2 separate regions of the Homo sapiens genome follow, and region 2 is linked to region 1. Evidence: fine-mapped expression QTL. A gene starts in region 1. The other region holds a variant in brackets. All regions are shown on one strand. Distances are between the middles of the regions. Region 1 holds the start of FAR1 (fatty acyl-CoA reductase 1). Region 2 has its middle 44 kb from the start of FAR1.

The links. PIP is the estimated chance that this variant, and not a neighbour inherited with it, causes the effect. A credible set is the group of variants that fine-mapping cannot tell apart.
Region 2: its variant is the best candidate, but not a certain one, in a credible set for the expression of FAR1 in whole blood (TOPMed, PIP 0.69).

The regions. Positions count from the first base shown.
Region 1 is chr11:13,666,436-13,670,824 of GRCh38, reverse strand. FAR1 (fatty acyl-CoA reductase 1) reads right to left here and starts at 2,157. Exons shown (of 12, transcript NM_032228.6): 1 at 2,019-2,157. RefSeq lists an enhancer at 1,598-1,647 and silencers at 1,728-2,007, 2,118-2,607.
Region 2 is chr11:13,622,795-13,627,183 of GRCh38, reverse strand. No RefSeq gene overlaps it. Among named protein-coding and RNA genes, the nearest start is that of FAR1, 44 kb to the left of the region's middle. The variant G/A (reference allele first, on the strand shown) is at 2,334.

The sequences.
Region 1 (4,389 bases):
CTGCCTCCAGCCTCTATCCACACCCCATAAATAAAAATTCCAAAAGCTTCAAATAGAATAGCAGTGATGCATACATACCATGTCTTTCCTGAGTGAAAAAAAAAAAAAAACCCTCAAGCTACTTAGCTACAAAATTCTTCACAAGGGTAATAAATTTCCCAACAAGCCTAATACATAATCAAACTCCAGAAAATTTATGTGGAATTTTTATGGATAAATTTATGGAATAATTTTGGCCGGCGCGGCAGCTAACGCCTGTAATCCCAGCACTTTGGGAGGCCGAGGCGGATGGATCTCTTGAAGTCAGGGGTTCGAGACCAGCCTGGCCAATATGGTGAAACCCCGCCTCTACTAAAAATACAAAAATTAGCCGGTGCGGTGGGGCATGTCTCTGTAGTCCCAACTACTCGAGAGGCTGAGGCAAGAGCTGATCACTTGAACCTGGGAGGTGGAGGTTGCAGCGAGCCAAGATCGCGTCACTGCACTCCAGCCTGGGCAACAAAGCGAGACACACACACACAAATTTATAAAATAAAAACAAAACAAAACAAAAATTATAAAATAATTTTATGGAAAATGTATGGAATAACAGGGCCTGGGTGGGGTGGCTCACCCCTGTAATCCCAAGCCTTTGAGAGGCCACGGTGGAAAGATCTCTTGGGCCGAGGAGTTTGAGGCTGGAACGAGCTATGATCTCGCCACTGCACTCCAGCCTGGGCGACAGCAAACCCTGTCTCTGTTTACTTTTTAAATTAATTTGAAAAAAATACATCAGGATTGTACTTATACGTTAATTCTCACTTGTATTACTGTAAGAGATCTTGCATCATTTTTATGCTATATTACACATGCCCAACATGACAGCTGAGAAACTCCCCTGGAGGGCAGATTTTCTGAGAGTATCTTCTGATGTTGTCTTTAAACCAACACTTTTTTTTTTAACATAAAGAATTAAGGGATTCCTGACTGCCATCTAGTCAAAAGCAAACAATATGTATGCCATTACTTCGGAGGGAGTGAGTTCTTGTGCTGCTGAGGCAAAACGAGATGAACTGTCACAGGGATGGCAGGAGGGGTGGAGTGTAGGAGGAGGATCAGCCCCAGTAGTGAGAATTAAAAACTCTTTTGAGTATTTGGCCCTCCACTAGCAGTAAATTAACCTTCAAACCTGACCAAGACACTACCTGAGACCCTCCACTCTCCGACACCGCAGAATCAGACAACTGTTCTTGCTCAACTACTCATAAAAGATTCACAGCCTTCACCTACCACACATAAATCTACCGCGTTTGCTGCTTGTATACTTTGTCCTAACAGACCAACTAATGCCTTCTAGTCCAATAGCCTCCCGTCCACACCTCACATAAAACCTTCTCAGCCACCTTCCGGTTTCAGTAGGTGCCTCTTACTCCAGATCCACGTGTCCCCAGTTCTCCAGAGACCTTCACCTTCAAAACCCAAGCCCGTCCCCCCTTCACTCCCAGCTGATCTCCACCCAGGCCCTATCAATCCTTACTTCTAATAGGCCAACCACACTCCCCGGCCCCGCGCCTTCTCCCTCAGCACCCTTTTCTGAGCATCACCTATTTCCCACCACTTTCTTCCTCCCCAGACCCGGAATCCTGCAATCACTAGGCCTCCCTTTGCCGCTACCCTCCCGCGAGCACGCGGAGCCCGCTGCTCGGCTAACCACCCCGCCCCACCTTCGCCACCTCTAGCGGCCTCCCACCCCAGGCGGCTCCCCGGGCTCCGCGGCTGCAAACCAGGCCCCACCGTACGTCCCCCACGCGGTCCCGGCCCTGTGAAGGGCGGCGGCGGGGCAAAGAGGGGCAGAGACCACCCGGGGTGAGGCGGGCGCCCTCACTTCTGGGCGTACCCGGGCGGGGGCGGGGGCGGGACGGCTGGTCGGCGCCCCCGCCTCGGCCAGGCCTGCAGCCCGAGCTCCCGCAACCACTTCCCGAGCCAGGCGAGGAGGAGCCCGCAGCCCGGCCGCTCCCGCTGGCGCACCCCCTTCTCACCTAGACGCAGAGGCTCAGGCCTCGCTCTCCCACTGGCCGTCCAGCAATAGCTGCGCCGCCGCCGCCGCCGCCGTCGCGCTCTCTTCACTCGCTTTTCCACCGCCCGCGACCGGCTGCTGAAGAGCGGACGGGCAGTGGCACGCCCATTGGCTGAGGCCCGCAGTCGCGTCAGCCGGCCCCGACCGCACCTCGCGACGTGACTGGCTGGAGCGGCGCCTCTTTTCGACATCCGCTTTTGATTGGCTCTCGCGCACACCCTTATCCGCAGGACCAGTCATCCTCCTCCCTGCTTTAGCCTCTCACCCCCAACCCGGTTTCCCTCCGGGCGGGAGTGGGGCGGGAGCGGACGCCCGCGGAACGCGAACGGCCAATGGGGGCGCGGAGAGAGGGCCGGGAGGTGGGCCCTGCGGCCGGGAGGCTCGCGGGGGAATGCTCAGCCAATGGGCCCGCGCCCCACATCTCGAGTCCTGGAGCGCCCCCGCCGGCTGCTGGCGTCCTGTCGGGTCGCGCCCAGGGCCACGCCCGGCTGTCCGTCGCGCGGGAGGGGCGCCAACTCCCAAGGTTGGGAGCACGCAGCGAGGCCCGCGCGGGAGACAGCGGGGCTGCCATTGTGGCGTGCTTAGCGCTATTATGGTGGGGCCCGGGGGCCCTCCGGCCATTGCTGGGCGTGAGGGATCCGTTCGGAGAACTACCAGCTTGGCGGGTGTGGCCCGGGTCGGTGAGAGCGAAGAGCTCTACGGACCCCTGGAGCCTCCACGGGTCTCGCCCAGTCCCAGGGGACTGTGGGCCCATTCATTCCACCTTCCACTTCCTCCAAAATAATTCCCTACAAAACTTACCGGTAGTGATAGGAGTTAGAATAACGTTTACTTCTGAGGGGTGGGGCACGAGGGAACCTATGGAAAGCTGGAAACATTGCGTCTTGATCCTGGTGGTCGTTCCGGGCTGTGTACACATGGAGGAATTCATCGAGCCGGACACTTAATAGTATTACCACATTCATACGGCTCATTTTTAAAAAATAATAAAAGGATCATGAGAATTCTGTAATAATATTACCACAATCTTTGGGCTCCGTGGGACTCCATTGTATAAACAGTCCGCATTAGGATTTAGCTGTCATTCAAAACATGCAAGCCATAGGAAGAAAAAAAAAGATTTGTGAGAAGCAAAAATGAGTGAACGCTCTTGGCACGGTGAATAGCATGCACAGGTTGGTATTTAGGGATGGATGGCTCAGAGTGATTTTTCTGTGGGGATTTAGAGCTTGTTTCAGTGCCTGGCCCTGTTAGTAGCTAAAAGCAGTCATAGTGCTGCATCCAGTTGGAAACTACAAAAGCTCACTGAACTGCCTACTTTGTGGCAGATGTTAAGTTCTGGCTCAGGAAACTAATTTGAATGCCATGGCTTCTGCCTCGATGAGCTCACAGTCTTGCAGCAAGTACTGTCATTTCTGGAGGAGGGCACAGAACACAAAGCTAACACACTTGCTTACCCTCAGGGATGTCGCATTCCGCTACTTTAGGCAAGACAGTGTATGCCTGGAACCCATCCAGTCCAATAGCCATAGTCATAAATAGCCAGGATCAGGTGAAACACTTCTTAGAAGTGGGTCAAAATATTCTCCCAAAACAAACGTAAGAACTATGGACCAAATTCTAATCTGTAAAAGAACACAAGCAACAAAACAAAGATTACAGTATTCATATTTATTAATTTAGTCATTAAGTTGTTTAAATCAGGTAAATGCCTTTATTTAAAGTGCTTGTCACTACACTAGGCATATAAACTTGGATATGACAGTATTCCACAGAACATAGGGTTTAATGGAGAGACAGACATAAACAATGCCAGTGTAATACAGGATGAGGGAATACCTAGAAAGAGGATGTAACCCAGCATGGGGGATTCAGGAGCATGTTAGAACATGTGTAGCTAAGTTAACCACTGCTAAGGTTTATCAGTATACTGATAGGGTAATATCACTATAGGAAATAGACACTATTTCCAGAAAATACTTCATAAACTTTTTGTTGTTTGTGCATATGTCTTAATTTTAAAAATTGATATAAGTACAAAAGCAAAGTAATGCTTAGTTCTGAGGAAAATATGATGTAATTATTAAGTAATCACTTAATAAATGATTCTCAAAAATAGCCGTACACTTGAGAGCACAAAGGGATCTCATTTGATTCAAGTCAATGTGTATGAAATGTGTGCCTCCGGCAGACCCCCACAAATGGACAGAGTGCTTTCTGGAGGAAGACTTTAAAAAACAATGGATCACTCTCCAAGATGGTACAATTTCATGGGTAAGGCATGTTGTATGACTCGAATCTTCCATAATATACTATCATTCTTAAATGAATTC
Region 2 (4,389 bases), 44 kb after region 1:
GGAAAGGAAAAACCAGTACCAGCCACTGCAAAAACATGCCAAATTGTAAAGACCATCAAGGCGAGGAAGAAACTGCATCAACTAACGAGCAAAATAACCAGCTAACATCATAACGACAGGACCAAATTCACACATAAAAATATTAACTTTAAATGTAAATGGGCTAAATGCTCCAATTAAAAGGCACAGACTGGCAAATTGGATAAAGAGTCAAGACCCATCAGTGTGCTGTATTCAGGAGACCCATCTCACATGCAGAGACACATGTAGGCTCAAAATAAAGGGATGGAGGAAGATTTACCAAGCAAATGGAAAACAAAAAAAGGCAGGGGTTGCAATCCTAGTCTCTGATAAAACAGACTTTAAACCAACAAAGATCAAAAGAGACAAAGAAGGCCATCAGATAATGGTAAAGAGATCAATTCAACAAGAAGAGGTAACTATCCTAAATATATGTGCACCCAATACAGGAGCACCCAGATTCATAAAGCAAGTCCTTAGTGACCTACAAAGAGACTTAGACTCCCACACAATAATAATGGGAGACTTTAACACCCCACTGTCGACATCAGACAGATCAATGAGACAGAAAGTTAACAAGGATATCCAGGAATTGAACTCACCTCTGCACCAAGCAGACCTAATAGACATCTACAGAACTCTCCACTCCAAATCAACAGAATATACATTTTTTTCAGCACCACACCACACTTATTCCAAAATTGACCACATAGTTGGAAGTAAAGCACTCCTCAGCAAATGTAAAAGACAGAAATTATAACAAACTGTCTCTCAGACCACAGTGCAATCCAACTAGAACTCAGGATTAAGAAACTCACTCAAAACCGCTCAACTACATGGAAACTGAACAACCTGCTCCTGAATGACTACTGGGTACATAACGAAATGAAGGCAGACATAAAGATGTTCTTTGAAACCAATGAGAACAAAGACACAACATACCAGAATCTCTGGGACGCATTCAAAGCAGTGTGTAGAGGGAAATTTATAGCACTAAATGCCCACAAGAGAAAGCAGGAAAGATCCAAAATTGACACCCTAACATCACAATTAAAAGAACTAGAAAAGCAAGAGCAAACACATTCAAAAGCTAGCTGAAGGCAAGAAATAACTGAAATCAGAGCAGAACTGAAGGAAATAGAGACACAAAAAACCCTTCAAAAAATTAATGAATCCAGGAGCTAGTTTTTTGAAAAGATCAACAAAATTGATAGACCGCTAGCAAGACTAATAAAGAAGAAAAGAGAGAAGAAACAAATAGACGCAACAAAAAATGATAAAGGGTATATCACCACTGATCCCACAGAAATACAAACTACCATCAGAGAAAACTACAAACACCTCTACGCAAATTAACTAGAAAATCTAGAAGAAATGGATAAATTCCTCAACACATACACCCTCCCAAGACTAAACCAGGAAGAAGTTGAATCTCTGAATAGACCAATAACAGGATCTGAAATTGTGGCAATAATCAATAGCTTACCAACCAAAAAGAGTCCAGGACCAGATGGATTCACAGCCGAATTCTACCAGAGGTACAAGGAGGAGTTGGAACCATTCCTTCTGAAACTATTCCAATCAATAGAAAAAGAGGGAATCCTCCCTAACTCATTTTATGAGGCCAGCATCATCCTGATACCAAAGCCTGGCAGAGACACAACCAGAAAAGAGAATTTTAGACCAATATCCTTGATGAACATTGATGCAAAAATCCTCAATAAAATACTAGCAAACCTAATCCAGGAGCACATCAAAACACTTATCCACCATGATCAAGTGGGCTTCATCCCTGGGATGCAAGGCTAGTTTAACATATGCAAATCAATAAATGTAATCCATCATATAAACAGAATCAAAGACAAAAACCACATGATTATCTCAACAGATGCAGAAAAGGCCTTTGACAAAGAAAAAATTCAACAGTGCTTCATGCTAAAAACTCTCAATAAATTAGGTATTGATGGGACGTATCTCAAAATAATAACAGCTATCTATGACAAACCCACAGCCAATATCATACTGAATGGGCAAAAACTGGAAGCATTCCCTTTGAAAACTGGCACAAGACAGGGATGCCCTCTCTCACCACTCCTATTCAACATAGTGTTGGAAGTTCTGGCCAGGGCAATTAGGCAGGAGAAGGAAATAAAGGGTATTCAATTAGGAAAAGAGGAAGCCAAATTGTCCCTGTTTGCAGATGACATGATTGTATATCTAGAAAACCCCATTGTCTCAGCCCAAAATCTCCTTAAGCTGATAAGCAACTTCAGCAAAGTCTCAGGATACAAAATCAATGTGCAAAACTCACA[G/A]GCATTCTTATACACCAACAACAGACAAACAGAGAGCCAAATCATGAGTGAACGACCATTCACAATTGCTTCAACGAGAATAAAATACCTAGGAATCCAACTCACAAGGGATGTGAAGGACCTCTTCAAGGAGAACTACAATCCATTGCTCAATGATATAAAAGAGGATACAAACAAATGGAAGAACATTCCATGCTCATGGGTAGGAAGAATCAATATCGTGAAAATGGCCATACTGCTCAAGGTAATTTACAGATTCAATACCATCTCCATCAAGCTACCAATGACTTTCTTCACAGAATTGGAAAAAACTACTTTAGAGTTCATAAGGAACCAAAAAGGAGCACACATCACTAAGTCAGTCCTAAGCCAAAAGAACAAAGCTGGAGGCATCACACTACCTGACTTCAAACTATACTACAAGGCTACAGTAACCAAAACAGCATGGTACTGGTACCAAAACAGAGATATAGATCAACGGAACAGAACAGAGCTCTCAGAAATAATGCCGCATATCTAAAACCATCTGATCTTTGACAAACGTGAGAAAAACAAGCAATGGGGAAAGGATTCCCTATTTAATAAATGGTGCTGGGAAAACTGGCTAGCCATATGTAGAAAGCTTTAACTGGATCCCTTCCTTACACCTTATACAAAAATTAATTCAAGATGGATTAAAGACTTACATGTTAGACCTAAAACCATAAAAACCCTAGAAGAAAACCTAGGCAATACCATTCAGGACATAGGCATGGGCAAAGACTTCATGTCTAAAACACCAAAAGCAATGGCAACAAAAGCCAAAATTGACAAATGGGATCTAATTAAACTAAAGAGCTTCTGCACAGCCAAAGAAACTACCATCACAGTGAACAGGCAACTGACAAAATGGGAGAAAATTTTCGCAACCTACTCATCTGACAAAGGGCTAATATCCAGAATCTACAAAGAACTCAGACAAATTAACAAGAAAAAAACAAACAACCCCATCAAAAAGTGGGTGAAGGATATGAACAGACACTTCTCAAAGGAAGACATTTATGCAGCCAAAAAACACATGAAAAAATACTCATCATCACTGGCCATCAGAGAAATGCAAATCAAAACCACAATGAGATACCATCTCACACCAGTTAGAATGGCGATCATTAAAAAGTCAGGAAACAACAGGTGCTGGAGAGGATGTGGAGAAATAGGAACACTTTTACACTGTTGGTGGGACTGTAAACTAGTTCAACCATTGTGGAAGACAGTGTGGCGATTCCTCAGGGATCTAGAACTAGAAATACCATTTGACCCAGCCATCTCATTACTGGGTATATACCCAAAGGATTATAAATCATGCTGCTATAAAGACACATGCACACGTATGTTTATTACAGCACTATTCACAATAGCAAAGACTTGGAACCAACCCAAATGTCCAAAAATGATAGACTGGATTAAGAAAATGTGGCACATATATACCATGGAATACTATGCAACCATAAAAAATGATGAGTTCATGTCCTTTGTAGGGACATGGATGAAACTGGAAACCATCATTCTCAGCAAACTATTGCAAGGACAAAAAACCAAACACTGCATGTTCTCACTCATAGGTGGGAATTGAACAATGAGAACACTTGGACACAGGAAAGGGAACATCACACTCCGGGGACTGTTGTGGGGTGGGGGCAGGGGGAGGGATAGCATTAGGAGGTATACCTAATGCTAAATGATGAGTACATGGGTGCAGCACACCAACATGGCACATGTATACACATGTAACAAACCTGCACATTGTGCACATGTACCCTAAAACTTAAAGTTTAATAATAATAAAATAAAAAAAAGAGAAAAAAAAAGAAGGCAGAGGTTGCAGTGAGCTGAGGTCATGTCATTGTACTCCAGCCTGGGTGACAGTGAGACTGTCTCAAAAAAAAAAAAAAAAAAAAAAAGAAAGGATGAAAGAAAAAGAAAAAAAACACTTGAATTAATTATTTAGTTATACTGAAAATTCATTAGAAAAGTTTTTCCAAACATCTAAAACTTGAAAAATTATCAGGGAGGAATA